Linked DNA regions of Homo sapiens: region 1 is linked to region 2. A link means that fine-mapping ties the variant in region 2 to the expression of a gene that starts in the linked region. Tissue or cell type: spinal cord. Region 2 holds a variant in brackets; the other region holds the start of a gene. All regions are shown on one strand. Distances are from middle to middle. Region 1 holds the start of FMO3 (flavin containing dimethylaniline monoxygenase 3). Region 2 overlaps FMO1-AS1 (FMO1 antisense RNA 1).

What was found. PIP is the estimated chance that this variant, and not a neighbour inherited with it, causes the effect.
Region 1: it holds the start of FMO3, and the variant in region 2 is the best candidate, but not a certain one, in a credible set for the expression of FMO3 in spinal cord (GTEx, PIP 0.65).

The regions. Positions count from the first base shown.
Region 1 is chr1:171,083,386-171,100,243 of GRCh38, forward strand. It overlaps FMO3 (flavin containing dimethylaniline monoxygenase 3), which reads left to right and starts at 7,520. Exons shown (of 9, transcript NM_001002294.3): 1 at 7,520-7,596; 2 at 9,268-9,405. The coding sequence starts at 9,274. It also overlaps the pseudogene LOC646804.
Region 2 is chr1:171,134,446-171,151,303 of GRCh38, forward strand. The region is part of intron 3 of FMO1-AS1 (FMO1 antisense RNA 1); the gene reads right to left. It also overlaps the pseudogene FMO6P. Among named protein-coding and RNA genes, the nearest start is that of MIR1295A, 41 kb to the left of the region's middle. The variant G/T (reference allele first, on the strand shown) is at 7,285.

The DNA of each region.
Region 1 (16,858 bases), 51 kb before region 2:
CTTACAAATATACTAGGTCTCCTATAAACAAATATATGCTGCTTTTCTCCAACATGGCCGAGCCCAGGAGAGGTGGTGTGCAAGTATCCATGACGGCTGTCTGGCACTAGAGTGGAGAGGGTAGCGAAGAACAAAGCACTTGCAGGGTGAGAATCTGAATCCGGCCTGAGCTGAAGAGGAGAGGCTTGTTGTTGCCAGTGTTGGTTTAGGTAATGGTGTGAGTAGAAACCAACTGCTACTGGTTTTAGAGAAATGTGGACTGGTGGATGCTCTCTTAATGCCACCTTACAAGCCCTACTCATTTGAAAGATACAAAACTACAGAAGAATCTAAGAGAGCCTATGTTACTCTCAATGGGAAAGAAATAGTGGATGATTTAGGACAAAAGATGATTCTGTATTTGAATTTTGTGGAAAAAGCACAATGGAAGGAGTTGGGGCCTCAAGCCTTACCACTAGTCCTCATAGTAGTAGAAGAAATAATTTCTACTGAGGATGAGAAAATTCTTTTGGAAAGTGTTGATCAAACAAAAGATACAGACCATCAAAATTTTCAAAAATGCTTAAAACACAGAAGAGTAAAGCATTTTGGTTATGAGTTCCACTGTGAGAAAAACAATGTAGATAAAGATAAGCATTTGCCTAGGGGTCTTCTTGATGTTTGTGATAGCTTTTTGGAGAAATGGTTGAGGGAGGGTTACATTAAACATAAACCTGAACAATTGACCATAAATCAATATGAACCTGGGCATGACTGTCATGGATTTTAAGTACCCAGATGGTATCACAGTGCCAGTTATTTTGCCTTGTTTGAGTTGGCTGGTGATGACAGGAGAATCTAGATACCTTTGGGCCCATGGGTTACCCTTTGGCTTGTGATAGCCAGAGGAAAGAGACTCCTCCCTCCTTTCCAGAGAGTGATAAAGAAGCCTGACAACTAGAGCAAGAGTACATCCATCAAGTTTATTAATAGATTGCTGGGCACTTCAGCAGCATGAGATATACAGCTTGGCCACACATCATTGAGTTTTTGAAGGCTTTGCCAAGTGGCTTAATAGTGGCTGATACTGGATGTGGTAATGGAAAGCACCTTGGCATCAATAAGGAGTTAGATGTGATTGGTTGTGATCAGAGTCAAAACCTTGTGGACATTTGTAGAGTGAGACAATTCCAGGCTTTTGTTTGTGATGCATTGGCAGTACCAGTCCACAGTGGGTTTGGTATGCCTGACTCTCCATTGCTGTTATTCCCCATTTTGCAACAGCAGAACATAGAATGACAGCTCTTCAAGAACATGTTGGACTCCTGAAACCTGGTGGGAAGGCACTCATTTATGTCTGGGCAATGCAACAAGAATATATTATAATAAACAGAAGTCCAAGTAGCTTACAGGAAACAGAACTAGCCAAGGAAAGAGAGAGGAGATAAGCAGTGACACCTCAGTGCAGGGGATGGTTGTGAAGCAAATGCCTGATGTGGGCAGTCAAGACTCAGCATCTTCTGTCTCCTCCATTAATGACTCTTAGGAGGGAGGATATAATTCAAGGCAAGTTACTAATTCCAAGCTTCCTATTCATATTAACAGGACTTCTTTTTGTTCTCGGGATGTACTGGTCCCCTGGTACCTTAGGGGAAACCCTGATAAAGACAAACCTGTTGAGCAATTTGGTCCCATATGATCCTATGACCCAAGTTCCATGTTTCATCATTACTTATGTGTTCTTTGAGGGAGAATAGGAAGTTGCCTGCAGGACTGTGAGTGATTTCAGCATTCTGCAAAGCTACTACGATCAAGGAAATGTGTGTGTGATTCTTCAAAAGGTCTGATTATTTACCTGAACATATCATGTATAAAAAAGAAATGCTCATTTTGTTTCAAAAAAAGGAGAATAATTATCATTTTAATTAAAGAGAAAACTAAGAAACTACCAAAAGAGGGCTCTTGAGAAAAATTTGGAAGTAGAGATTCATTAGGAGACATTCAGTCAGCTACTGTTGGCTGACCTCATAGATGTAGTCTCCTACAACTTCCCTACAAGAGATGGCTTCTAAAAGCAATTAAAGTAATTTGTGCAGTGCTTGTAATTCTTGGGTAAGAGCCCACCATTTTGAAGATAACCTTTTGTTATAAAGTGTTACTGAATGTACTAAATCATGTAGGATCTTAGTGAAGTAATTCTACCACATTTTAATAAAGGAAATATTTCTGGTTAATAAAAAAACAAATATATGCTAATCTTCAAATTAACTTGACTAATCTATTTATAAAAGCTATACTATTCATCACTATAACATTTTTTATTGTAATATGTAACATTTTCATAAACTTTAATGCAGACATGAATATCATGCTAACATCAGTCAATAGGGTGCCTGTTTTGCAGCTTCTCTTGCCTTCCTGTGTGTTCCTCGGTGGCCTATCAGTCTCAGGTGCAGTATGTGGACTCTAAGAATGAAATGATCAGATTCTCTGGCATGAAACTCAAACTACTGTCCTTATTTCTCATTTTTTAATTGTAGTGTCTAAGTGGCTTCTGTGTTACTTATGGTCCAATAAATGATGTGTAACCTCCTCTTGATGGTATTCTGGAGTCGGGAGAGGTAGTGAAATGGAAGAATAACTCAGGTGTATCACCTGTTAAACCCAGGAGGTGGAGGTTGCAGTGAGCAGAGATAGTACCACTGCATTCCAGCCTGGGCAACAAGAGCGAAACTCCATCTCATAAATAAATAAATAAATAACTTGCTGAGGGGGTCCTAAATTTTAAATATATACCACTGTTGTCAGACACTTAGGAGTGGAACTGGAAAACTGGCAACGAAGGAGATCACTGGAATAAGTTACAGAGAACATCTGTCACTAATACTTAGAACATTATCTGGAATATAATAGACACTCATTTACTAGATTAAAAAATGAAAAGTGTATATGAATGCAGCTTAATGTGCCAATGAAAGGCATCATGTGCATTCTCCTTAGTTATAAGTTCCAACCAGCTGCCCTTCATTTTACATATTTTCTATTTTGGCTATTTAATATGCCACGCAACTCAGCATGCTGGACAGTGCACGTGTGTCTGACTTGTAACTAGTCAGCTACAACTACAAGTTGAATTAGTTAATTAACCTCTTTCACATTTTTAGGTCTAAAAACAAAATAGGTGTGTTGATCTATAAGTGGGTCTTGATGGCAGAAATACTTCCCCATAGTGGCATCTGGAAATATATAGGGGTAGTCTTTTCTTTTTCTATGCCTAGTAGTTTTCACTGGCATTTATTGACTTAGATACTAGGTAAGCTAAATACCCTGCAATCTTAAGGATGATCTCACACAATGAAAAATTGCCCTGCCCAGGCTGACTTGCCATAGTGCTCAAGCCTGTAATATTAGCACTTTGGGAGGCTACAGCTGGAGGATCACTGAGCCCAGGAGTTTGAGACCACCCTGGGCAACATAGCAAGGCCCCCATCTCTACTCTACAAAAAAAGAAAAGAAAATTTGCCAGGCATGGTGGCACTCACCTGCAGTGCCAGCTACTTGGGAGGCAGAAGCAGGAGGATCTCTTGAGCCCAGGAGTTCAAGGGTGCAGTCAGCCATGATCGCACCACGGCACTCCAGCCTGGGTGACAGAACAAGACTCCAACTCAAAAAATAAAGAAAGAAAAGAGGCCGGGCGCGGTGGCTCACGCCTGTAATCCCAGCACTTTGGGAGGCCGAGGCGGGCGGATCAAGAGGTCAGGAGATCGAGACCATCCCGGCTAAAACGGTGAAACCCCGTCTCTACTAAAAATACAAAAAAATTAGCCGGGCGTAGTGGCGGGCGCCTGTAGTCCCAGCTACTTGGGAGGCTGAGGCAGGAGAATGGCGTGAACCCGGGAGGCGGAGCTTGCAGTGAGCCAAGATCCCGCCACTGCACTCCAGCCTGGGCGACAGAGTGAGACTCCGTCTCAAAAAAAAAAAAAAAAAAAGAAAGAAAAGAAAAATTGCCTAGCCCAAAATGTTATAGTGAGATCGTTCATAAATTTAATCCTTAAAGTTCTTTCAAGTTCTAAAATTACATGATTCTAAGTGGAAAGTACATTTTGAAAATTATTGTTTTACAATGCAGACATGAGTATCAGGCTAACATCAGCCAATAGGGTTTCTGTTTTCTTCCTCTTTTGCGTTCTTGCGTGTTCCTGGCTGGCCCATTACTTTCAGGTGCAATATGTGGGCTCTATGAATGAAATGGTCAGATTCTCTGGTGTGAAACTCAAACTACTGTCCCCATTCCTCATGCATCCAAAACTAGCCTGGAAAGTCTTTTTGGCCATTATACACCAACCCAGTTCCAGGTGATAGAATATGAGAAATGGAATGGAGCCTAAAAGGCTATCTTGTCCCCTCACCTCTACTGCCCCAAAATTACCAAAGCAACCAACACAAGGGTTCTTTCTCTAATGAGCGATGAAAGTGATCTTTCTTATTCCATAAGGCTCCTGCTCTGGAAGGCTCTGGTAATGGCGACCATTTTCCTGGTAACTTAGGGTTATTTGTAACTCCAGCAGCTGCCACAGAAGGCTCAGATGGGAACTCAAAGTTGTAAGATAAGCTCTTCATTTATTTTCCTTAATCAGGGCTGTCTTGGTTTTCCTGCCCCTGGGGCAATAGTGGCAATGTGAGGAACAGAGACCTTGCCCCTTTGTAAAGGAACAAGTGGAGTAACCACTCTGGACCTATCATTGGACCTGACTTTAACTCAGTGTTTCTCAACAGTGCAACCAAATGTCAAAAATCACAGACAAACATTGTTTGCACTTGCTTGTTAGTTCCAGGATTAAATAGACAGTCTTTTATTACCTAAGTTCTAAAATGTTTTGGTTTTATTTTTTCCCTATCATAATTTTTTAAATTTAGTTTTCCTATTTTATTTATTCTAAGCTCTTTCATCTACTCACATATGATGACCCCCAAAGGTAAAGCATACTAACCGCTTCTTATATATACATTCATATTTTTCTCCCTGATCAAAATCCATTACAGATCATATGAGTATGTCTATGTGTGTCTGTGTTCACATTTATACAGATTTTTAAAAATCAGCATTCATTTTTGAAATAAGGATCATATTATAAGCACTTTTTTGCATGTTGCTTTTTTCCTTTCTAGTACTTTAATGGGGTATTTCTCCAAGCTATCTGTTAGCTCTAATTTACAGAATAATTTATTCACTTCTCTAACAAAAAGCATTCATTCTATCTCATTTTTGATACTTTGAACAACACTGAAATAAACTTTTTTATACAATTTGTTAAAGCATGCTTATATTTGTATTTTTATAAGATATATTCCCAAAAGTAAAATCACCTGATCAAACAGCATATATCTTTTTTCTAAAGAAAAACTGAAGACACTTTATTTTTATCATTATTGAAGTTAACAATTGACAAGCCCATTAGAGAAAACATTTTACATAATTTTACATCACTGACTTAGAGCCCACACATACATGACAAAGATAGCTAAAAACATATGAAAAAATATATCTTTGGAAATAAACACAGCATTCCTCTGGCTATGAAACTAAAAAAGTTTGAGACACTTTTTAAACTTGTAGCAGAAGATGCAACAGACTGTCAGCTTCATTTAGCACTGCCTGCACTAATTGTTGTTCACTCGATTCTTTACGAGATATTAGCTTCAGAATATGGACCCTAAAGAATCCACATCTTTGGAATGTTCCATCATAGCTTTGATGATCAAGTCTGAGTCTCCAAAAGCCACTCTCATTTTATAGAAATCTTTCAACTGTTATGCATCATCAGACATGACAACAGGTGTCACAAGAGATATATGCCTTGCCTCCAGCAAATCAATTAGAAGAAAACAAAAATTTCTTTAAAATACAAAGAAAATATAGAGCAAGAGAACAGAATATAAGTCTTCCACTCATATCCTCCAACAGCAACAATAATCTAGCAACCATCCAGGGATGAAAGTTTCTTCTTAGCAGTTTTGTGATTTGGAGGGGACAACAGAGTAGAGAATGCCCACTGCCCCAACCAGAGCCTGGGCATTTGAGATTCTGAAGATTTAAAAAGGGGCTCTGCAGAAAGCTGTGGCAAGCAAAGGATAGGCTAGAGAGAGACAGGACTAATAAATGTGTCGACTTCAGATACATTCTTGTGAAGGACAGCAAAGAATAGGTGGCCTTTTCACCTCCTAGAGAGATAAAACATCGGAGGCCAAGGTAGAATTGGGTGTGTCCTGCCAATCTTTAAATGAATAAGGCTATAGGAGTAGTATTGCTTCCTGAAGTAGTCACAATCTTTTCTTTGCATTATTTTAATTCTATTTATGTAGCATTAAAAACTGAAAAGAAGTTCTATGTAAAATGAGAGCAGAGAAAATCATGTTGTCTGAATTGCAGCCCTAGAAAATTTCATGAACCTATGACTTGTTTTTAATTTTTATCTACAAGTCACATTTGCTCATTTTTAACTACATGCCACATTTTATATGTACCTATGTATACATGTATTTATGTGTACATACCCTTTAATCCTCTAATCCTTGTTAAAAAAAAAATAGCCAGACAGGAATTAATAGTGTAGTTATCCCTATTTTATTAATGAGTAAATCAACGATTGGAAAGGTTAAGTGATTTGCCCAAGGCCACAGAGCTATAGAAGTGATTTGGAATCTCTCATACTCACACTTCAGAGATGAAGATTACTGTCTTCAAAAGGCATGAAGGGTAATTCCTCAAAATTAGACATATACCAGTTTACACTAAGTATCACTTGCTTAATGAAGGAGTTAACTAGACAAAATGAGTGAGATGTTATAATTCTAAGTGACATCAAAATATAGTTGATAGGAAAACTTTTTTTGAAATTCTACTATATTTCATGACTGGGAGTTAGGTGCAGTTTATTTTGTCTAACTGCCAACATAATTTTACCTGGTACTAATTTTACCTGGTTCCTGGTACTAATAGATCAATTTGTGGAATTTTGATCTTTTCTGTGACCACACACTGTACTCAGAAACAAGTAAATATAAGCTTGAGAAATACAGGCCTTTGACCCCAAAATTCCAAGACAGGACATGAAAAGAGAGAGCAGAGAAAAGTCATCCTCCTTATTGGGCTATCTCAATTAAGTAGCTAAGTTTCTACAGTATTTGGAGGACTACTATGAGCTACCCACAAAAGAACTAGGAATAAGGAAAACAAGGTAAACTTTCAAATAACACATAATAAAATGGAGTACAGAACTGCAAAGTCACCTGGGAGAAACTACTTGACTCCCAGGCCAAGGGTCCAAGAGTATAACCAGCAGCTTGTGTTTACCATAATCAAAGGAAAAGTAGAAACTGGGTGGCCATGGGAGACTGGCCTACAGTCCCATCCATCACAGAGGGTTGGCGTGTGCTCACCCATTCAAGGACCAATAAATGAGTATCTCTTTAAGAGCAGCTCCTCCCATTTTTCAACAATCTTCCTAATATGTAGGCTCACTAGAACATTTTCTCTTTCAAACTGCCCAGACGGTTGGACAGGACGTAGACACACAGAAGAAAAGAAGACAAAGAACGGGTAGGAAAATTAAAAAGGTAGGAGGCTGAGGCGGGTGGATCACCTGAGGTCAGGAGCTTGAGACCAGCCTGACCAACATGGTGAAACCAAATCTCTACCAAAGATACAAAAATTAGCCAGGCGTAGTGGTGCATGCCTGTAATCCCAGCTACTTGGGAGGCTGAGGCAGGAGAATCACTTGAATCTGGGAGGCAGAGGTTGCAGTGAGCCGAGATCACACCATTGTACTCCAACCTGGATAAAAGCGAAACTCCGTCTCAAAAAAAAAAAGAAAAGAAAAAGAATAAAAGGTGATATAGTAAAGGGTTGAGGGTGGGATGGGTAAATGAAGAAGGAGCATGCTGTAGTTTTATACCAAATATGGCTAGAATGAGAATGATATAATTCAGGCAGTTTGTTTGTTTCTGGGAATCACGGATCATGATGTTTAATCATCCAAGTCTATTTCCCTGCATAGCTATGTGATTTTGTCTAAAAAGAAAAAAAAAAGTAGTGAAAGAAGTAGTGGTAGAGCCTAAAGACAGTGTCAGGAACAGAAAAAAGTTAGGAAACGTAATTTTCTTAGAGGGGAATGGACGCTGAAGGTAGTGGGAAAAAATTGTTTTTAGGTAAGAACATGACTTCTTTCCCCAACACCCCCCGGAGAGAAGGTCTCACTCTGTCACCTAGGCTACAGTGCAGTGCTGTAACCATAGCTCACTGCAGCCTCAAACTCCTGGGCTCAAGCGATACCCCAGCTCAACAGGACTATATAATCCCAGAGTAGCTGGGACTATAGGTATGCACCATTTACTTGTCTTTTTAATTGAGAAGGTGAAGTACATTATTGATGGGGAGAAGGGGTGACTACCTGGCACACTGAAATACAGACATCTTCAGACCTTGTTCCTCATTATCCGTATCTAAGTAAAAAGAAGATACAGATTGCGTGTGTGTGTGTGTGTGTGTATGACTGTGTGTGTGTATACATATACATATGTGTTTCTTCATTCCCATATACAGGCATATGTATGTGGGTGGGTGGGTGGATGTGTCTACAGGTGTTTTAGTTGCGAATCTTTATTTCTTCTGCTTACTCTTTTTGGTAGACAGTAAATGACAAAGTCCAAAAGCAAAAAAGATAAATATGTATGCTGGGTCATCAGTCTCTTAATTTTGGAGAGCTGATGACTAAAAACAAAGTGCTTATTTTTTTTTCAGAAGAAAACTTTCTCTTTAGAAATTAGAGAGAAATGAAAATGTAGTTAGATCACTAAAAGGAATTTGTTTTCTAGAGACAAGGTCTTACTCTGTCACCCAGGCTGGAGTGCAGTGGTACAATCACGGCTCACTGCAGCCTGGAACTCCTGAACTCAAGTGATCCTACCGCCTCAGCCTCCTGAGTAGCTGGGAGTACAGGCATGTGCCACCACACCCAGCTGATTTTGTTTGTTTTTTGTTTTGTTTTGTGGAGACAGGGTCTCACTCTGTTGTCCAGGCTGCTTTCAAACTCCTGGGCTCAAGTGATCCTCCCACCTCAGCCTCCCAAAGTGCTGGGATTACAGGCGTGAGCTACCATACTCAGCCAGTGTTTATTAAAAAGTAAAGTTTTTATTAAGCCAAAGAGCGAAATCAAAATAAATAGATAAATAAGTAAATACATTTTCAGCAATGTTGTTACTGGAAATGTTCTCTGGGCCTTTGCACAGGTTACCATGGGGAAGAAAGTGGCCATCATTGGAGCTGGTGTGAGTGGCTTGGCCTCCATCAGGAGCTGTCTGGAAGAGGGGCTGGAGCCCACCTGCTTTGAGAAGAGCAATGACATTGGGGGCCTGTGGAAATTTTCAGTGAGTAGCATGTTGTTGTAATAGACAGGAAAATAGGTTGGGAAGTGTATAAGAGCACACTGTGTGCACACAGGTTTCCAAACCTGCTACCATGGCAGTTATCATATCTGTTAGAATTGGAATCCACTAAGTACAGTGTCAAGAGCAGGTTGGAAAGTAACCTCCTTGCAAGTCAGAAGTAAATTAGACAATGGGCTTTGAAATTCTCCATTACAGTTCTCCCTTGATAGATCATTAATAAGAGCCACTTGGACATAAAATTAGTGGTAAATATTAGTTAGGTTTATGTAGTTATAATTATTTACTCATTTAAAACACAATAACTTTTCACATCTTTTTTTTTTTTTACAGATTTAGGGGGTACAAGTGCAGTTTTATTACATGGATATAATGTATAGCAGTTAAGTCTGGGCTTTTGTGTAGCCATGACCCAAATAATGTACATTGCACCCATTAAGTAATTTCTCATACCTCAACCGCCTCCCACTCTCCTACCCTTCCAAGTCTCCAATGTCTATTATTCCCACATTCTATGTCAATGTGTATACATTATGTAGCTCCCAATCGTAAGTGAGAGAATATGTGGTATTTCACTTTCTGTTTCTGAGTTATTTCACTTAAGATAATGGCCTCCAGTCCCATCCATGTTGCTGCAGAAGACATAATTTCATTCTGTATTCTCGCTGGGTAGTATTCCATGGTGTGTGCATATATACATACATATATATGTATATGCGTCTGTGTGTATATATACATATATGTATGTATATACCACATTTTCTTTATCCAATCATCCTTATTGGACAACAAGGTTGATTCCATTTCTTTGCTATTGTGAATGGTGCTGCGATAAACATATGGGTGCAGGAATTTTTTTTATATAATGACTTCTTTTCCTTTGGATAGATATCTACTAGGGGCATTGTTGGGTCAAATGGTAGTTCTATTTTTAATTCTTTGTGAAATCTCCATACTGTTTTCTATAGTTTATATTCCAACCAACAGTGTTTCCTTTTCTCCACATACTCACTAATATCTTTTTTTTTTTTTTTTTTTTTTTTTGAGTGGGAGTCTCACTCTGTCTCCCAGGCTGGAGGGCAGTGGCGCCATCTCAGTTCACTGCAGCCTCCACCTCCTGGGTTCAAACGATTCTCCTACCTCAGCCTCCCGAGTAGCTGGGGTTACAGGTGCCCACACCCAGCTAATTTTTGTATTTTTAGTAGAGACAGAGTTTCGCCATGTTGACAAAGCTGGTCTCAAACTCCTCAGCTCAGGTGATCTGCCGGCCTCGGACTCCCAAAGTGCTGGGATTACCAGCATGAGCCACTGCGCCTGGCCTTTTTGACTTTTTAATAATAGCCATTCTGACTGGTGTAAGATAGTATTTTATTGCGGTTTTAATTTGCATTTTCTCTGGTAATTCGTGATGTTAAGCATTTTCCCATATGTTTATTGGCCATTGGTATGTCTTTTTTTGAAAAATGCTTATTTATCTCCTTTTTCCCCTTTGTAATGGTGTTATCTGTGCTTCTTTAAAATTGAGTTGCTTGAGTTCCTTATAAATTCTGATATTTGTCTTTTGTTGAATGCATAGCTTGCAAATATTGTCTCCCATTCTGAAGGTAGTCTGTTCACTCTGTTAATTATTTCTCTTTATGCGAAAAAGATTTTTAGATTGTCTATTTTTATTACATTTGCTTTTGAGGCCTTAGTCATAAATTCTTAGTCATAGCCTAGGTAAAAGAGTTTTACCTATTTTTTTCTAGAATTTTTATAGTTTCAGATCTTACATTTAAGTCTTTAATCTCTCTTGAGTTCATTTTTGTATATGGTGAGAGATAGGGGTCCACTTTCATTCTGCGTATGGCTATCTAATTTTCCAAGCACAATGTACTGAATAGGGTGTCCTTTCCCCAGCATATGCTATTGTCAACTTTGCTGAAGATCAGTTGGCTATAGGGATGAGGCTTTATTTCTGACTTCTCTATTCTGTTCCACTGATCTATGTGTCTATGTTTATACCAGTACCATGCTATTTTAATTACTATAGCCTTGTAGTATAATTTGAAGTCAGGTAATATGATGCCTCCAGTTTTGTTCTTTTTGCTTAGAATTGCTGAGGTTATTTGGGCTTTTTTGGTTCCATATGAATTTTTAGAATTGTTCTAATTCTGTAAAAAATGGCATTGATATTTTGTTAGAAATTGCATTAAGTCTTTTGGGCATATGGTTATTTTAATGATATTGGCCCTTCCAATCCATGAGCATGAGATGTTTTACCATTTGTGTCAGCTACAATTTCTTTTATTCATGTTTTGTGGTTTTCCCCAAAGAGATCTTGCACCTCTGGTTAAATGGGTTCCTAGATAATTTTTCCATTGTTGTTGGCTTTTCCCATTCATTTGGTGAGGCTACCAAAGTGATTGGGACCATGGATTTTAAAGTTTCAGGTGCTGACTTTGGTCTTGTGAAACTACAAAACTGAGAATTGCTTTGAAGTTCTTCAATGCCCCTTTGTCCCGTGCATATGTAATAAGGGTTCTATTAGCAGACATGCATGTATGCACTCATTAAATCACTTCATGTGTTGCCAAACAGCAGCAGGAATGGGGCTTCCCTATGTTCTCCACTCAATCAGTACAGTCTTCCAGCCTTATTGCCTGAGTCTTATTTTTCTTCTTCTGATAAACCCATTAATATATATGCAAATTTAGGAAGATTAATGACCCTTTTAAGCCACTATTTCCTCCTCAAATGCAAAATCAGTATTATATTATTTACCTCAATGAAAAGGTTGTATTTAATGAAACAGTGTCTGTAACAGCTGTTTAAATATTATAAAGACATGAGATATCATTCTTATTAATATAGATATTTTGCAGACTGCAAAAAACTCTTGAAACCACCCAGCATCTTTTCTTAAAAATATGGTATGTTTCTTTTATATATATCTATAATAATATAAATATATATTTAATATATATTTATATATTAAATATATAAAAAATATAAATATATATTTATATAACTATATAGATTAAATATATAAACATATAATTATATATATAATATAAATATATATAAAATATAATTATATTATATATAATTATAATATGTATAAATATATATTTATATAATTATATATAATATATATTTATGTATTATAATTATATATTTATAATTATATAGATATATTTTATATATTTTTATATATTAATATACATATTATATATTAATATATAATATATATTATATATAAATATATAATATATATTATATATTAATATATAATATATATTAATATTTTTATATAATTAATTATTATATATTAATAATATAGTAATTATTATATATTGATATGAATATATAATATATATAATTATATATAATATATTAATATATATTTATATCAATATAATATTTATATATAAATACATAAAATATATTATTTCATACATATTATATAATTTTATATATATAAATATTATATATATTATATATCTATTATATATCATATATAATATTTATATATAATATATAAAATATATAAATATATATAAATATATAAAAATATATATATTATAATTATATATATGTTATATATAATTACATATATATTATATATGTTATATATAATATATATTACATATTTTATATATTAAATATATATTAAATACATAATATATTTTATATATTAAATACATAATATACTTTATATATTAAATACATAATATACTTTATATATTAAATACATACTATACTTTATATATTAAATACATACTATACTTTATATATTAAATACATAATATACTTTATATATTAAATACATAATATACTTTATATATTAAATACATAATATATTTTATATTTAAAATATATATTTTATATTTAAAATATAATTAATATAATTATATAAAAATTAATATAATTATATTAAAAATATATATAATTAATATAATTATATTAAAAATATATAATTAATATAATTATATTAAAAATATATATATTTGTAATTATACTTTAAGTTCTAGGGTACATGTGCACAATGTGCAGGTTTGTTACATATGTATACATGTGCCATGTTGGTGTGCGGCACCCATTAACTTGTCATTTAGCATTAGGTATATCTCCTAATGCTATCCCTCCCCACTCCCCCCGCCCCACAACAGGCCCCAGTGTGTGATATTCCCCTTCCTGTGTCCAAGTGTTCTCATTGTTCAATTCCCATCTATGAGTGAGAACATGTGGTGTTTGGTTTTTTGTCCTTGTGATAGTTTGCTGAGAATGATGGTTTCCAGCTTCATCCATGTCCCTACAAAGGACATGAACTCATCATTTTTTATGGCTGCATAGTATTCCATGGTGTATATGTGCCACATTTTCTTAATCCAGTCTATCATTGTTGGACATTTGGGTTGGTTCCAAGTCTTTGCTATTGAGAATAGTGCTGCAATAAACATACGTGTGCATGTGTCTTTATAGCAGCATGATTTATAGTCCTTTGGGTATATACCCAGTAATGGGATGGCTGGGTCAAATGGTATTTCTAGTTCTAGATCCCTGAGGAATCGCCACACTGACTTCCACAATGGTTGAACTAGTTTACAGTCCCACCAACAGTGTAAAAGTGTTCCTATTTCTCCACATCCTCTCCAGCACCTGTTGTTTCCTGACTTTTTAATGACTGCCATTCTAACTGGTGTGAGATGATATCTCATTTTGGTTTTGATTTGCATTTCTCTGATGGTCAGTGATGGTGAGCATTTTTTCATGTGTTTTTTGGCTGCATAAATGTCTTCTTTTGAGAACTGTCTGCTCATGTCCTTCACCCACTTTTTGATGGGGTTGTTTGTTTTTTTCTTGTAAATTTGTTTGAGTTCATTGTAGATTCTAGATATTAGCCCTTTGTCAGATGAGTAGGTTGCGAAAATTTTCTCCCATTTTATGGGTTGCCTGTTCACTCTGATGGTAGTTTCTTTTGCTGTGCAGAAGCTCTTTAGTTTAATTAGATCCCATTTGTCAATTTTGGCTTTTGTTGCCATTGCTTTTGGTATTTTAGACATGAAGTCCTTGCCCGTGCCTATGTCCTGAATGGTAATGCCTAGGTTTTCTTCTAGGTTTTTTATGGTTTTAGGTCTAACATTTAAGTCTTTAATCCATTTGAATTAATTTTTGTATAAGGTGTAAGTAAGGGATCCAGTTTCAGCTTTCTACATATGGCTAGCCAGTTTTCCCAGCACCATTTGTTAAATAGGGCATCCTTTCCCCATTTCTTGTTTTTGTCAGGTTTGTCAAAGATCAGATAGTTGTAGATGTGTGGTATTATTTCTGAGGGCTCTGTTCTGTTCCACTGGTTTATATCTCTGTTTTGGTACCAGTACCATGCTGTTTTGGTTACTGTAGCCTTGTAGTATAGTTTGAAGTCAGGTAGTGTGATGCCTCCAGCTTTATTCTTTTGGCTTAGGATTGACTTGGCAATGCGGGCTCTTTTTTGGTTCCATATGAACTTTAAAGTAGTTTTTTCAATTATGTGAAGAAAGTCATTGGTAGCTTGATGGGGATGGCATTGAATCTATAAATTACCTTGGGCAGTATGGCCATTTTCACAATATTGATTCTTCCTATCCATGAGCATGGAATGTTCTTCCATTTGTTTGTGTCCTCTTTCATTTTGTTGAGCAGTGGTTTGTAGTTCTCCTTGAAGAGGTCTTTCACATCCCTTGTAAGTTGGATTCCTAGGTATTTTATTCTCTTTGAAGCAATTGTGAATGGGAGTTCACTCATGATTTGGCTCTTTGTTTGTCTGTTATTGGGGTATAAGAATGCTTGTGATTTTTGCACACTGATTTTCTATCCTGAGATTTTGCTGAAGTAGCTTATCAGCTTAAGGAGATTTTGGGCTGAGACGATGGGGTTTTCTAGATATACAATCATGTCATCTGCAAACAAGGACAATTTGACTTCCTCTTTTCCTAATTGAACATGCTTTATTTCTTTCTCCTGCCTGATTTCCCTGGCCAGAACTTCCAACACTATGTTGAATAGGAGTGGTGTGAGAGGGCATCCCTGTCTTGTGCCAGTTTTCAGAGGGAATGCCTCCAGTTTTTGCCCATTCAGTATGATATTGGCTGTGGGTTTGTCATAAACAGCTCTTATTATTTTGAGATATATCTTCTCTAGTTCTTTTAATTGTGATGTTAGGGTGTCAATTTTAGATCTTTCCTGCTTTCTCTTGTGGGCATTTAGTGCTATCAATTTCCCTCTACACACTGCTTTAAATGTGTCCCAGAGATTCTGGTATGCTGTGTCTTTGTTCTCGTTGGTTTCAAAGAACATCTTTATTTCCGCCTTCATTTCATTATGTACCCAGTAGTCATTCAGGAGAAGGTTGTTCAGTTTCCACGTAGTTGAGCGGTTTTGAATGAGTTTCTTAATCCTGAGTTCTAGTTTGATTGCACTGTGGTCTGAGAGACAGTTTGTTATAATTTCTGTTCTTTTACATTTGCTGAGGAGTGCTTTACTTCCAACTATGTGGTCAATTTTGGATTAGGTGTGGTGTGAAACCCCCCAACATCTTATACAATGTTGTGGAGCCTACTGTATGTTATTAAAATGTGTTGACAGGGCTTCAGATTAACACACTGGTGATTCTTAGGGCTTTTTGGTTGTTGTTATTTTTGTTTCTTTGTGGCCAAACTTAGGGCTATTTTATCAAGCACTTTCTATATGACACATGACTTTTTCTATTTAATTAAATATTTATAGTAATCCTATAAGCTAGGTATATTTTTTTTCCTTTTACAAATGAATTTGAAGCTTTAAAAGAAAAGAAAAAAAATCATACAGCTGATAATGGTGGAGAAAAGATCCCAATTCAAGCTTGCCTTTCTCTCTAGTCTATTCTTAACTCCTTTGTAAATTGCTGGTTGCCATTTCACCAAGTGGCCTATCGAGCTGACCATGTCTTTCTTTTTTTTTTTTTTTTTTTTCTTTTTTCTTCTTCTTTTTTTTTAGACAGAGTTTCTCTCTTGTTGCCCAGGCTGGAGTGCAATGGCACAATCTGAGCTCACTACAACCTCCACCTCCTGGGATCAAGGGATTCTCCTGCCTCAGCCTCCCGAATAGTTGGGATTACAGGTGTGTGCCATCACGCCCCGCTAATTTTTGTATTTTTAGTAGAGATGGGGTTTCGCCATGTTGGCCAGGCTGGTCTCGAACTCCTGACATCAGGTGATACACCCGCCTCGGCCTCCCAAAGTGCTGGAATTATAGGCATGAGCCACCACTCCTGGCCAGCCATATCTTATACACAGTGATCTTAACCAAAGCCTCATACTCAAATTTAGTTTGCAAGACGTTGCTGAAGATAGAACGCACTGCTGATATGGCTATTGAGAGGAACACAGCCAAAGACAGCTAATTTGTCTTTTCTTGCTGCTCGAGGAAGACTTTA
Region 2 (16,858 bases):
GAAGCATTTTACATACCATGTCCCAGAGTCTGCACTAGAACTTAGCTTCCTAGGAGACGGTACTCTGTCCTTTTTTGTTGCCACTGTATCTGTAACATTGCAAACAATGCCTGGCATGCAGTAAATGCTCGATTAATACTTGTTGAATAACCCTCTGAAGGTTCCATACTCTCTAAAGTAAGAGTATCTTCTTCATACTCTCTAAAGTATGTCTTCTCACTATTCCCATTTATAGGGTATTGGAAAAAACATAGCATCAAGTCATCAATTTTTGCTGGCTTAGCAAATTTGAACAGTTCAGTTTTTCATTAGTATATTGAGAATAATAATACCTGCCTCACAAGGTTAATGGAAGAAAATAAATGAAAAGCACTTTGAAATACGTGTCAGCATTCTGAAGATGTTCATTAATCTCAGTCTATTCTTAATCCTGTTCTTGGAGTGGCTAGTGTGAACCATTAGGGGCTGCAAGCCTCAGTGGTATGACCTATAGAGCCCTGAGCTTTAAGAGAAAAGCATGGAACTTTAAGTACAAGGAGACATGGAAAGGCCACAGAGAGGTAGATTCCCAGCTGAGGGGGAGGTAGAGAAGCTCTGGAAATGATCACCTTTATCCCTGGCCTTAACATATCTCTTCCTCCTGGGTCCTCCATAGTACTCAGGGTCAGCCTGAAGATGGTTCACCAGTAGAGAACTGCTGGCGCTGAAGAAGAAGAAGACACTGTGGACAATGTTCTCCCCTTGTTTCATGATCTTGCTCACTTTGGCCTATCAAATAACTCCAGGGACTTCATCTTTTAGTTGATTAAGTACCTGGGATACCACCTTCTTATAGCTCTAAAGACACTGCCAAGCTATGAGAATGCAGGGGGAGGCAGGAGATCCACAAGGTCTGATTTTCCTGATCATTTTTGAGTAACAGGACTTTCTGTGATCTCATTAAATCACAAATGCAGTCTCAATCCGGAAAATAGATCCCATCATATGTGATAATCAAAACCTTGGACTTTACTTTCAGCTGTAATCTTTTCAGTATTACCTTCAGCTGAACCTGCAGCTAGGAGAAGCCTGAGGTCCTGGAAGGCAAGCATGAGGCTTTTCTCCTATATCGCCTTATGCTTCCACTCCTCCTCCCCATGATGCTGATGGAAAAGTTTCCAACCCTTTCAGAAAATTATATTTTCTGTCTTTGAAAAGCTGACATTTTACAAATCTCTTAATTTCTTAATACACTGAGGTGTATGCAGGAAATTAAGAGATTTGTAAAATGTTGAAGGGATATTAGTAATTACTTAATCCAATTTGCTTATCTTACAGGGGAAGGATCTAAATTCCTGCAAGAATTATCCCAAAATATACAGCCAAAGAGATGAATCACTGAGTTTTTAACTATAATATTAGATAACAGTATGAATATTTTTAAAATTTATAAGAAGACAGAACTGGCTTTCATTTAATATCATACGTATTACAAGAATTGGAAAGCTAAAAAACCACATTTCTAAGACTCTCTTGCAGTTAGGGATTGGATGCAATTAGTTTTGCCAGTGAGACAGACATCTAGGCTCAGAAGGCAAAGGGAAGCAAAAGCTAAATTTTCGTGACAATGCTGATGGGCAAATGTATTCCAACAGGTGTGCTTATATCAGCTGAACTCCATGTTCCACCTTTTAGCCCCCCAATTTGTATGTTGCAGGCATCTGTGGTGATTGAAGCAGTTTCCTGCCCTCTGGATAGTAGCTCTAGTGGTGTGACCTCTCCAGTCCTGCAGCAACCTCCTAGTTCCTGCTCTTTCAGCTCTTTGACCTTTTGCAAGCACCTAATTCCCTGTAGTATATACCTTTCTTCATGATATATAGTGTTTTTTATCTCCTGCACTAAATCATGAGCATATGCATATAAATCATAATATGAAATCTTAAAAACAGAAGTACTTTTGCTGAGGCATTAAGCATATAATCAGTCAGCAGGTCCCCAAACATCTAATTCCTGAATATCTCATATATCCTGTCTCCATTATCCATTCCTCTAATGCTACTCTAATTTAAGTCCTCAGTCTCTCTGGCCTAGATTGTTGAAATAACATCCTGGGTTTTTGGTCTCCTTGATTCTAGTCACCATCCTCTCTAGCCTCCAGGTGAATCTGATCTTGTCTGATGTTGTCACTTCCTTGTTCAAAATTCTCGAATGGACAACCGTAATCCAGAAGGTAGTATCCAAACCTGTGATTGTGGCACTTCAGTATCCTTCATAACCTATGTCCTGCATGTTTAACCCATATTTTGCTATTCCCATCACTTATGGTCCAGCAAAACTGAACTAATTGTAGTTCCCCCATCACGTGTTCTTACTTTTCTATGCATTTTCACATATTTTTCTCTCTGCCTTTTTTCTATTTCTTGTCCCTTATCTGTCTGGAAAACATCTATTCTTCCTTCAAGACTCAGCTGTCTTCTCACACTCCTTGAAGCCTCTCTTTCCTCCTCCAAGTGGACCTAGATTTTTCTTCCTACATGCTAGCACTACACTGAACCATACTTCCACTGTGACATTTATCATCTCCCTCAACACTAGACTTCATGGTTCCAGATGGAAAGCACTGTGTCTTCTCACCTTTGAATCCCCCAAAAGACTATTATAATGCATGACATATAGTAGGCTGTCAGTACAGTGAAAGGAATGGCCAGAGGAAGGAAAGGAGGGAAACAGAAGCAGAAAGGACAGGTATAGAAGCCGGAGGGAGCCAGAGACAAGGTTCAGAGACCACAATTCTGTCTTTTGAGTTCACTAGTTTTACAAGCTCATCTATAAGCGTTAGTTCAGCAACTCAGATCAGGCCCTAAGTTTCCAGAAATTTGAGCTACTTTTCACTGTTGGCACAACAAAACGTTTCATTATAGTCCAGGTGCATAGCCTTTGTTTATATATTCTATATTTCCAAAGCAAACATAAATGAAAGAATCATTGTTCCCCTAATCTCCCAGGAGTTTCACCTTACAGCTCCAGTGGCCATGGCAGTCACTGTTTTATATTTTTTGTAACAAGAACCAAAGACTTCATTCTTGCCTTTTTCCTACCCCTTTCTTTTTACTTCACCCATGCCTCCCCTGTTCTTCTCTTATCCTTACCACACTCAGTCCTTCTCTTTCAGATTTTACTATGGCTCTATACCATTAAAAATACAAGAAAAAAAAGGAATTTTACTTTAAGAATAACTCCTCCCCCTTCCCCAGTTTTCACATCAAAAGACATTGTTAAATGCCATTCTCTTCCACATTTCGAGAACTGCTGATTCTCTGGGGAGAGAAAGGTGATTGCTTAAGAGGTGAAGTCCCTTAGAGCATTCAAAATGAGGAGTGATTCTGTACAGAGGATATCATGCAGCAGGCTGGATGTCTAGTTCCAATTCCTTTATTTGTTACCTCTGAGACCTTGAAGAAGTAGTTTCTAGTCTCAGCATACCAAAGCGTCATCTGCAATTGAGAGCATTGGATTGATGATCTTCAAGGTCCTTCCTGCTCTAGCATTCACTGAATCTGCTATTTTTGACATATTGAATAATCAGAAGCAGCCAGTTTTAGAATCTTATTATAGCAAAAGTGGTAAAAATAATGAGCATATACTATCAATGTGCATCTATGTCTTCTTATGTTTGAGTGAGGATCCTGATACATAAACCTTGGCTGATAATTTCTACTGAAAAAAATCGTAAGTATTAAAGACACTCTTCTGAAGATGTTCTCTCCAGACTCTGCTACAGGCAATCATGAGCAAGAGGGTTGGCATCATCGGAGCTGGAGTCAGTGGCTTGGCTGCCATATGGTGCTGTCTGGAGGAGGGGCTGGAGCCCACTTGCTTTGAAAGGAGCGATGATGTTGGAGGCCTGTGGAAATTCTCAGTGAGTGGCACATCATTAGAACACCAGTGGAAGGAGATGGATTCCAATGCAAATCAAATCTGATCAGTTCTAATTCAGATTTAGAAGGCAGATCACAAAAGCTCCAAATCTGGAAAGTAAAATCTTACCTCTCCAATCATACTAATGCCCAAAAAAACTATTTCATACCAGCAAAATTTGTCCTGAAAAGGACATTTTCAGCTCATTAAACATCATCACCTGCATGGTGAAATCCAGATCTCCAAGCTGTAAAGGGCACTAATGTTGGTAATTAGTCAAAAATATACCATGGGCTTCCCAGGTAAGTGAAACAATTCTATTCTTTATTGCTCTTAAATGCCAGGAACACGACTAGAAAAGAGACAAACAAACCTGGACTGAGATCCTGAGGTCAGAAGTCCTGAGTTCTAATTTCAACTTGTAGGTTTTCTAGGCAGATAAGATTTCAGTCCAGTTGCTTTTGTTTCCCTGGACCTCAAATGCTCATTTGTCAAATGCAGAGGATATGATTCTATAATTAACTTATGTCTATTGGGCAGATAGAAATTATTATAGATGATGATTGTGTGTGCGGCTGTTGAATAGCCTATCAGCTCCAAATCCAGAGGGAAAAATTATGGTCTTTGCCATTTGGGCTCATTGTAGAAATAATATAATTAGGAAATAGTCCTTGTAAACACATTTTTTTTTTTAATTTCAAAGCCAAGTTTGGAGAAACTTCTAGTTCTTCTGTCCTGGATTTCCCAGCCATTGTAATCAGTTGTCGATGATACATATTTGGCTTGAAAACATATTCACATCATTCATATTGTAACTACTTCCTGTCCTGGTCTCAGTTACTGCTCTGCCTGCGCCAATAGCCTCCTCCAATAGAGTATATCAGTGCTAACTTAGAACACATTTTTATTCTTCTCCAAGCTTTTTTTAAAAAAATTTGTGGTTTTGTAACCCTGAAAGCACTCCATGAGATATAAGGTCATTAATTTTTATTTCCCAGTAGGGGGTAATCAAGAGTTAATATTTTTCAAGAATTTAATTTTCCCTATTTACATTTGCTCAGGGAAATGTGGACAGCTTAGAGTAAATCATAAAATGGCTTTCTACCATCTCCCTAGTAACAATTAAATGATGCTTGAGCATCTATTCTGGTAGTTTGTGCTAAGTACTGGGATGACAAATATGGAATATAATCACTCCTTGTAAATGGTTCCATTTCATTTGATTAAGCAAGCCATAATATAATTCCGTAATCCTTTGATAGCAAATGGGCAAAAACTCATTTGATAGCCGAACCTCTTCTGAAATCGTAAGGTTAAATACCGTGAATTGGATCAACATGAAGCTAAGTCTCACCTTCTGTTGCACGGCAGAAATTTTATTGCATTTGACAGATTGCTGCCCCAGATCTCACTAGGAGTATTATGGAGCAAAATCCAAAAATGTACACATTCCAAAATATATCTGGCCCTAAGACTTTTAAAATAAGAGATTATATAACTACAACAACAAGATAGACCTTGTCACCATCAATTCAATGGACGAGTGCCTCGAGCGTTTAGAAGAGGGTGGACTACGGAAATCTTAGTAGGTCAAAGAAAACCTCCCACAGGGATGACACTTAGCCTTGAAGGATAACCCCAGACAAGCAAAATAGAGGACCACCTGTGACACAACTCCTAGAGAGTGCATTTCCCAATAAAGTCTGCGAATGGCACTCCATAGGCCTATGCAGTCATTGGCAGTGTGCCAGCACCAGGTTAAGAGAGACCAACAATCCATGAAAGGCACAGAAAAGGCAATGAACATGGTGTGTGCAGAGAGGGATCCATGAGTTATCCAATATAGCCAGATCAGAAAGTTTACTTAAGGAAGCAATAATATGATACAAAGATCAGTAAGATTCAAAGTTGGATTCTGAGTTATCCACAAGAGGAAATTCTTCTTTTCCATAAGGTCATGTCTATAAGCAAAATTCTACTCAAAGTCCTGGTGAGGATATGGACCCATACAAATACTCAAAACTTTAGCCTCCTCCACATACCCCAGCCCTTCCTTCTTTTCTTAGAAAAGTTGCTTGGCACAATATATAATCAGAGAGGGATTTTTTTTATGTGTTACATAAGACTTTATCTTGTAAGCCTTTTTTAGAAGGTGTTCTAGCAGACAGAAACGTGGTAATTCTGAACTTTTCACTATTTGCTTTTTCTGAGAAATGAAAACCAAATGGGATTTAAATACTAGCAGGCTGAATGTGTGTTTTAAGTTTCATCCACTCCTAAATAGGGCCTCGTGTCCTCAAAAGATTTCATTACTGCTGTAATAAGAAGTTGCTCAACAGCCAGGTGCGGTGGCTCATGCCTATAATCCCAGCACTTTGGGAGGCCAAAGCGGGTGGATCACGAGAGGTCAGGAGTTCAAGATCAGCCTGGCCAACACAGAAAAACCCCATCTCTACTAAAAACACAAAAATTAGCCAGGTGTGGTGGTGGGTGCCTGTAATCCCAGCTACTCAGGAGGCTGAGGCAGGAGAATCTCTTGAACCCAGGAGGCAGAGGTTGCAGTGACCTCAGATTATGCCACTGCACTCCAGCCTGGGCAATAGAGAAAGACTCCATTAAAAAAAAAAAAAATGCTTACCAATAGGTTAGTAGCATTTTGATTGCAAAAGCTGAAGCCAGGACTATTTGAACTTTTTCCCACTCATTTATTCCTTTGTTCATTCAATGAATACATACTGTGTACTTTATGTGTAGGGTACTATATTAAGCATAAGCTGCAGATAAGAGGCCAGCCAGCACTTTAAAAGCCGTGAGAAAACAAGTATCAGAATAACTATAAGTGACTATATAATTAGGGCAATAAGGATAATGGGACCTTAGTAAAACTAAAGATGATTTGGCAGTAGCTGAGAGGGAAGGTAAAGAAAGCCATGACAAAGTTGAAGGCAACTTTTGAGCATATTTCAAGGGCATATTTAGACAAGGAGATATGGGACTCATAAGCAGAGCTGGAATAGGAAAGAAGATCAAGGTAAACTGCTTAGATGCATGTACAACATTCTGAAATTAACCTCTGACTTTGCCCTCAAGTTACTTATGTTCTCGTGGGAAAGATGAGAGATGAACACGGTTATCATCCAAGACAGATGGTGCCCACAGCTGCTTAGATCTCTGGTTCCAGGGTAAAGCTCCCTCAGCTAGAGGCAGAGTCAAAGTTGAATTTCCTCCTTACTGGCTCAAACCACACCTCATATTGAAATAATAAAAATGCATGCTCCCTGGAGCAACTGACTTGTTATCTAATACATTTGCTTTTTTGTGTTTGTTTGGAGAACAGTCTTTTCGGAAAAATTCCAAGGAGCTGTAGTGTACATACTCTTCTCTCCT[G/T]GTGTTATAATTGGCTGAGGTCAAGGGGCAAAAAAGCAGAGATTCATTCAAGATGGAAATATTCCAAGGCCTTAGCATCTGTTTCCCAGAACAGAGTCTTACATTCTTTAACCAGGCTCCATCCCACAGTTCAGCCCTGCCTCCTTTCAACAGGCAGCTGAAAAAACCTCCTTCCCACCTCTCCTTCTTCTCACAACCATCAGTAGAAGGCGCTAGCTGTGGGTGAAAGGGAAGCACTCAGCCTGCCAAACTGCTGGACATGAGCCTTCACCCTTTTTCTGACCTCCACAAAAATTTTAAAAAGTTTAAATTCCTGTGCTTCCACGCTTATGAGAAATACAGCAACCATGAATAGAGGAAGATTATGTTTTCAACTTGAGAAAAAATACTGAGGCTTTGGGCAGCCCCCCACTTCCCCACGGGGACACAATCCTCTCAACCCTTTCCAGCACTTTTTGTTTCCCTCTTCCAGAGGTCATCTGGTGTGAGAGGGAGAGACACATCTTGAATCCAGCAGCAACGTGACATTCCATCTCTTTCCCCCCATTGCACAAGAGTCCTTCCGGACCTCGGGAAGCAGAAGCTGCCAGCTCTGAAATGTATTTTCAAGGCAGCACATTGTGTGCACTTTTACCCTACCCTCACAACTGAGAGGAAATGTTTATTTTCAATTTAGCTTTTGACTGCTTCTAAAAAATAAGCCACTTTTCAATTACACAGAGGCTTTAAAATGAAGTGCCAAGATTTAACACATGTTCTAAGGGCTCTGGTTTCCTGTGTTTCTTTGGTGAGGAGTGAAGTCCAGCAACTGGTGAGCCAAAGAATAGGATTCATTTACAACAGAGCAGTGGTTCTCAAAGTGTGGTTCCTAAACCAGCCACATCAGCATCACCAGGAACTTGATAGAAATGCAAACCACCCCAGACTCCACCCCAGACAGATTGAATCCGAAATTCTAAGAATAGGGCCCAAGAATCTACGGTCTAGGGAGCTTCCAGGCGATTCTCATTACGCCAAAGCTGGGAAACCACTGCAATATTGGGTTGTTGCCAGTGAAGAGTTTGCTAAACTCCAAAAGCAAATAAATAGGCTAGAAGTCAGAGCCTCTTCTAGACAGTTTTGTTTTTTGTTTTTTTTTTAACCTGAGTATAAGATCAGAACCAGTGGTGGCACAGGAGAAAGCAAAAACCACTAAGTGGCTATAAAGACAGAGCTAACACTGAGGGTAATTACAGTAAGAGGATTCACATGGAAAGAGCTCCAGTTCTGTGCCAGGTGCTACGCGAAGGGCTTTCCATTCCTTATCTTACTGAGAGCTTTTAATTTTTGTTTACGCTTTTAAACATGAAAAGGGTTTTAGTCAACCAAGAATTGAACCACTGTGTTCACTGAAGGGAACACAATTCTTGGCTTTCTCTTTAAGCTTTCTTATTCTCCCTAGGACCACACAGAAGAAGGCAGAGCCAGCATTTACCAGTCTGTATTCACAAACTCTTCCAAAGAAATGATGTGCTTTCCAGACTTCCCTTATCCGGATGATTACCCAAACTATATACACCACAGCAAGCTCCAGGAATATATAAAGACATATGCTCAAAAGAAGGATCTTTTAAGATACATACAGTTTGAGGTAGGGGTCTCATAACTTGTACTGTTGAAATTAAGATATGTGTGGGTTAGAGAAAAAGGAGGCAGCAAACTATTATAAAAATTAGAGCCAAATGTTTGGGCACCTCAGTAATCAAATGTTGGCTCTGATTATAAAGCATTCATGCATTGATTTTTTCTCTCCTAGACTTACTAGTTCACTAGTCTCTGAGAGCTTTCAGACTACCTTAGAAAATGGAGGCAGCTAGCCCATCATTGTCCACTTTCCACCCTCATGCTCTGATGTTTTGGAAATAATCCAAAATGCTTTAGTATATATTAGGAATTTTGTCAGTTCAATGCCAATGAGTTGTGGTTCAAAAAACCAGAGCATTTGGTAGGGTTTCTCCCATTACATTATGAAAAGGTTAACAACTTAAATGGGAAATATAGTCATTGCCCCCATCTTTACCCACTCAGTTCATTAGTTTTTTTATTAAAAAGGTGAGATTTCAGCATTGTTTCTGCGAGAATAATGTTTTACATTTATTTGGGACTCTTTATTGAGCATTTCTGTCTGTATGTTTGGAACTCTTAACCTCAATTAACTGCTGCTAAATGCAGAACACTTGCATATAGTGGGAAAAACAATCAGCAAAATTATGAACCATGGTGATATTTACATCATTATTTTACCTGGAGTAGCCCCAAATGTATAGTTAAAATAAAATTTTCCAATAGTCATTTTATTCCATTCATTCATTACATTCATTTGCTTCCATTATGGTGTTAATATCAACAAACATTAATGAAGTTCCTATTGTGTGCTTGCATTGTGCTATGTGTTATATGTAAAAGAAAAAGAGGTCTAAGACTTAGCTCTCAAGAAGTTATTTCAAAATAAATATGTAAAGAGTAAGTAAAAAGATTCCAGTAACAATTTCAATCAAAGAGAAAATTTTTTAAAGCTCTTTATGATTTGTTTATAAATAAAACAATGCTATGGAGATCATGAAGCAAGAGGCAACACTTTGGGGGAAGGTATTTTCTAGAGGAGGTAAAATTTAGTTGTATTTAGTAGGTGTTTTAGATAAATGAGTGGCATGAGTAAAATTAGAGAGGTGGGAAAATGCCCTGCTCATTTGGAGAACAGTGGGCAAACCAAGTTGGTTAGGAGGGAGATATATATGCTAGGATGAGATATGGCCACATATATCAGTAAACTAGTGTGTACTGTGACTTTGAAAAATAGAGGATTATTTTGCAACCATGTAAAAGAAGTCCAAAGAAGGGACATCCAGAGCTTATGTGATGGCACCAAAGTTATCAAAGATTCAGCTTCACCCATCTTAGCACGTGGCCTACATCATGACGTTTGCCTTGTGGTGCAAAACAGTTGCTGAAGCTTGAGCCGTCACATCTGCCTTCTAGGCAAAAAAAAAAAAAAAAGTAAAGAATGAAGGGCAAAGGGATGTTCTCTCAGCTGAATCAGCTCCCCTTTTACAAATTCTCCTGAAAAAACTGTCCAACATTGCTTATATCTCACAGGCCACCCTAGTTGCACAGGAACCTGGAAAATGCATCCCTTTTCTGTGTATGTTGTCGCTCCAAACAAAATCAGGGTTCTGTTAGTAAGAATGAAGGGAGAATGGACATTAGGGAAGCAATTTGCAGAATATGTTCCAGAAAAGTCTGTGGGAATAACAGAAAATAAAACTAAAAGAGTAAATTGGAACAAAATTGTATGGACTTAATAGTAATCGCATTCAAAATGTAGAATAAGTTTTAGAGGCTGTGAAGTAACAGAAATTGAGCAGTGAATTGAGCAGAGAAATTGAGAAATGAATATAGTCCTTCAGGAAGATTAATCTGACAAGCAGGACAAAGGATGGCTTGTAGGAAATGGGAGGCTGAAGACAGGCTAGGTATAGGTTCTTGCCGTAGTCCATGCAAGGGAGTGATAAGGACTTGAATGAAGGCAGTGTTAGCAATCATGGAAAGAAAGCGTGAGATTGGGAGATAAATACTGTTTAAACATGAGGCAAGGATGGAGAAATAACAAGGAAAACAAGTCATGGATTTGAAGCATAAGTGGCTGGGAGTTTCATGTCATCATTCAAAGAAATAAGAAAGTCAGAAGCCAGTTTCAAAGGAAATTTAAGTAGGTCAATCAAAACCTGCTACATATGAGGAAGTATTAGGTGGCCCTCCAGATGGAAAGGTCAAGCTAAACTGGATAGAAGAGAGACCAAGGATAGATGTATTTGTATATTCATACCACAAAACTTGCTAATTTTTTTTTTTTTTTTTTGAGACGGAGTCTCGCTCTGTCGCCCAGGCTGGAGTGCAGTGGCGCAATCTCGGCTCACTGCAACCTCCGCCTCCCGGGTTCACACCATTCTCCTGCCTCAGCCTCCTGAGTAGCTGGGACTACAGGCGCCCGCCACCACGCCCGGCTAATTTTTTGTATTTTTAGTAGAGACGGGGTTTCACCATGCTAGCCAGGATGGTCTTGATCTCCTGACCTCGTCATCCACCCGCCTCGGCCTCCCAAAGTGCTGGGATTACAGGCATAAGCCACCGCGCCTGGCCGTAAAGTTGCTATATTTCTAAGATAAGAGTATTTATGCAGAGCAAAAGAGATGCCAACGATCAAACCTTGAGATATTCCCATACTTATTGAGTAGATGGAAGATGAGGTCAGAAAAGGAGGAAGCCATGTCAGTAGAGGGTAGCCATAAGAAAATAACACAGATTTGTTATATGACATCATTCACAAAAATATTCAGTGTGATTTACCCCTAAATCAACTAACTTGATGTCAAAAAGTAAATGTACTCCAGTGAGTAATTTTTCTTGTGAGATTCAAAGACTCACTGAAGATTCACTGTGACTCCAATTTTACTATCTTTCTATACATTTCTGAATGACCAAGAGAGCTCGTAACAATTATTTCCTCCACAGAAACAAGGCAAGAAGGAAAAAAACTTTCACATGTAGAATTATAAATGGAAAAATAAATTTTCTAGTTTTCTTAAAGACCCTGGTTTCCGGTATAAAGAAATGTCCCAGCTTCTTAGTCACGGGCCAATGGGTTGTTGTTACTGAAAAGGATGGGAAACAGGAATCTACTATTTTTGATGCTGTAATGATTTGTTCAGGACATCACGTATACCCCAATCTGCCAACGGATTCCTTTCCTGGTAAGTTTGGAAAATATATAATAATCTAGGGACTTATATGCAAACATCAAGAGTTAGAAACATATCTTTCTATAGGTATTACATAATGATTATTCTTAGATTTCAAAAGAAAAAAATTAAGTTTAATGATAGGATATAGTAATAAATAGCCTCATAAGTCCTTATGTTAAAATAATCAAGGACTGCAAGCCAGAGATCAGACAAACACAAGTTCCTGTTTTACAGACAGTAACTCAAATATAAGTTCTAACAGCACACGGGGTCTCCGAGCACAGTTACATTAAAAAAAAGTAGAGTCCAACTGCCAAATGGTTTAAAGAAAGACACGTTTACTTATGTTATTTATAGGAGACTCCTAGGTTTCTAATTTCATCTTCATCCACAATTTGCAAATAAACTTTAGAAATCTCAGTGATTTGTGTGTGGGTACACACATGGGTGTGTGTATAGCAGCATACTTCATTACCATCCGAAAGTGGCAAACCTCAAATAAATACAATATACATGGAGGCTTCCTTCCATTTTTCCTTCCTTCCTTGCCACAGGAACACAATCTACTCAAAGATATTAGAGTTTCCATGTCTAGGTATGATGTCCATAGGCCGAGGAAAATTAAAGAGTGAAGGTTCAGGAGGAATATAAGATTAAAACTCTTAATGTTAACGGGCAGCATATTTAATGTTTATGAGCATGGGATCAGAACACCTGGCCTCAACTTACTATTCCACTAGTTCCTTACCACTTACCTTCTTTGTCTCAATTTCCTCTTCTTTTAAAATAGGGACAATAGCCCACCATGCAGGGATGTTATCAAGATTAAATAGTTAAAACGTGTAAAGCATTTATCAGAGGATCTAGCCCACAGAGTTAACTTAATAAATATTAACCATTATTATTATCGAAACATACATTCTCATGCCTTAAGATTTTTTAAGGAACTAAAAGTAAGTTTTAGGGGGCTTAATGTCAAAAAATGCTAAATGGATAAATGCACTTCAACTAGGGAATTTTTTAATTACAACTGATAATAGGTTTAAAAAGACACAAAGAAAACATCTTCATAATTTCTGAAAATCAGTTCAAACAACTTGCCATGTTCCACTTAGGCCTGGACCAGTTTCGAGGCAACTACCTCCATAGCCGGGATTATAAGAATCCAGAAGCCTTCAAGGGGAAGAGGGTCCTCGTGATTGGTCTGGGGAATTCGGGATCTGACATTGCTGTTGAGCTCAGCCGTCTGGCTACACAGGTACATGACGTAAAGGTTTTGGGAAATAAACCTAAGGTAGGGCTGTGCTACTAAATCAGTAGCCAAGGCACAGAGGATGGTACTTCTATGTCACACCACAAGAGATCCACCTCTTCTATGTGGCCCTTCAAATCAAGGAGGACTTGAGACATCCTCCATGTGAAGCCAGGTAATGTGGCCCGTGCTAGTAAGGAAGTACATTCCACTGAATCCAGAAGTAAGTGCATGAGTGCGTGTATGTACAGATGAGTGTGTATGTGTGTATTTCTTGTTTTCATTTTATATTCTGATCACCTCCAAATAGACTAGTTCCTGGTCAGGCTTAATCTTTATTTATTTAACAGTATTTATTATAACGTATCATGCAAAAAGCACTGTGTTTACCACTCTGAAGTTCTGAAAGATATGCATGACTTGGTATTTACTAACATTAATTCAATCAACAGCAGATGCTCAACAAATATTGGGCACTTACTATGCTTACTATGTGTCAGAACTATGATAAACTAAAAATAAATGCATAAATAAGTTAGACTAGTTCCTGACTTCAAGAAAGAGTCAATGGATGGAGATGGAGTTGACAGGTACACACAGACTATCACCAGAGGAGATGGTGAGTCTTCCAGTAGAATTAGGTGTGGCAATAGCAACACAGGGAAAAGAGAATCTAACTTAGCCTGGATGAGGTCAAGGAAGACTTCCCAGAGGACTCCAAGCTAAATCATGTATCATCGATAGACCCTAAAGAAACAACATATTTTTAAGAAAACAGGTTCTCAATAAATAAATTCTTAAATGGATGTAAATAAAACCTAAATTTTTTAAACTAAAAATTCCCTTCAGTTATCACAAAGTTAAAGTCTATTTTGCAAAGACGGTAAAATAGATAAGCAGCCAGACTCATCTCAGGGCTGAGGCGGTTGCCATGGTTTGGGTTGCTCAGGAGAAGTCCTTGGGGTATGTGTATAGGGAGAACTGGAAAAGGCAACCAGAGACAGAGAACAGAATTAAATCCTTGACATCTCGTCAGCCTAATTTCAGCTAGAGATTTAGCTACACTTTTCCCACACCTAGTCCACTATCACCAGCCACAACCACTGGGGCTCACTGGATCATCTGGTCCCTACCAGACTTGCCATCTTAGTCTATGAGTATGTGAAGATTAAACCATCACAGTTGAACACAGAGCCCTGTTGTTCCTAGAGGTATGATTCTAATCCTTTCAACAACTACACACCAGCCCTCAGGGGCAGTGAAAGAATCCTGTCTCTACTAGTTTAAATTTTAGACTTTAAAAAAATTTTTTTTTATTTTAAGTTCTGGGATACATGTACAGAACATGCATAGGTCTGCACATGCCATGGTGGTTTGCTGCACCTATCAACCCTTCATCTAGATTTTAAGCCCCACATGCATTAGGTATTTGTCTTAATGCTCTCCCTCCCCTAGCCCTCCATCCCCCCGACAGGCCTTGGTGTGTGTTGTTCCCCTTCCTGTGTCCATGTGTTCTCATGATTCAACTCCTGCTTATGAGTGAGAACATGCAGTGTTCGGTTTTCTGTTCCTGTGTTAGTTTGCTGAGGATGATGGTTTCCAGCTTCATCCATGTCCCTGCAAAGGACATGAACTCATTCTTTTTTATGGCTGCTAGACAACTTATTTAGACTCGCCTTTTAAAAGTGTTCCTACTTGGATATTGAGGAAAATGCACGGAAGTGCCCAAAGAAGTGTGTTGTGTTTGCTTATTTCTTACAGAGTAATGCTGAAATCTGTGTTGCTTTTCCCCACCAGGTCATTATCAGTACCAGAAGTGCTTCCTGGGTCATGAGTCGGGTCTGGGATGATGGCTATCCTTGGGATATGATGTATGTTACCCGCTTTGCATCCTTTCTCCGGAATGTCCTTCCTTCATTCATCTCTGACTGGTTATATGTCCAGAAGATGAACACGTGGTTTAAGCATGAGAACTATGGCCTGATGCCTTTAAATGGGTACTTAAAAATGGAAATTTTTTTTATTCAAAAAAGGGGGGCACTCATTTAATGAATTTATTCTCTCTAGAACTTACTTTTGTTGTCTCATTGAGCCTAGAAACATTAAACTCAAGGTTTCATAGGTGACGGAATATGCCCAGAGACCACGTATGGCTTGGAAAACTTATTGAAATTAGTCCAGTACAGAAAGGGTATGGAAAAATCTGAAATGGAGATGACGCAGGCAGATAAATCACCCTGACATGCATGATGCATTTGTGGTGGCTACAAGCTATAGCATAGAACTTTGAGGACTGAAGAAACTCAAATTGGTTTTTGGAAGAATATCTTGTCCGTGCTTATGGGTGTATGAAGACATCAATAATAATACTTGCTTCTCAAGATGGTTGTGGTATTCAATAATATAAAAATATAAAAATTGCTTTCTAAATGATAAAGCTTTAAAAAAATTGGTTCTTCTTAGTCTCAATTTTTCTAATGTGCTTCAAAGGAGCAAATAACAAAATAGTGTTAATCAACATGTCTCAGCAAGTAGGAAGTCTCAAAACAAAAGTGCACACTTCCTCCACCCCTGAAATGTTGACATTTTTGCAGAACCATCAGGAGGCATGGAACACATAAAGTAATGGAGAGTCACAACTAACGTGGCCTGTAAGATTAGTCAGATTCATTTATTTACTTCTTTATAGAGACAGGGCCCAACATTTACTAATTAGGAAGTCATTCCAGGTAGAAGAATCAGCATATCAATAGAAAAAAAGAATATTTAAGTTGGTAAGAAAAGAAAGAATTGAGAAATTTTATCTCCTGGCCCATGCTAGCCAAAAAGTTTCATTGTGTTTAGAGAAAGATGGTAAGAAAAAGGAGGAACTGTAAATCAAAAGAGCAAATGCCAGATTTAGGAGCTAAACTGTCAGTCCAAAGCACTTATACTACCAAGTCTTGCAGGCTGCTATAACCCTTTAAAATATGTTGATTTTATGCATTTAAAATTATGTTTAACACTGGGGCTTGCTTGACAGTAGAGGGTGGGAGGAGGAAGAGAATCAGAAAAAAATACTTATCAGGTACTATGCTTATTACCCAGGCGACAAAATTATCTATACACCAAACCCCTGTGACACACAATTTACTTATATAACAAACCATGGACCCCCAAACCTAAAATAAAAGTTTTTAAAAATTATGTTTAATATAGTAAGTCCCATAGCTTGAGCTGGTTAAGATTTTTTATCTTGTAAGAGTAACTATAAATTATATTTTGGCCTTGCCATTTAGACAATTAAAACATAGTTTTAGAAATTCATTCATTCTGAAAACTAAGCTTCCTTTTGGAAAGGGTTCCAATTACCCTAAGTTTCTGGAGGGAGAAAGGGGGAGGAAAAACAGGTTTCATTGTGGTCTATGTTTTGCTACCTTGTAAGGTAAAAGAAGAGGTTGCAGGATTAGATAAACAGAAAATGATGTGGAAGTATAGAGACAAATTTCAGGATTTACAAGGTTTCTTTGTGTCTGAGATACTTGCAGGAAATTCCGGAATC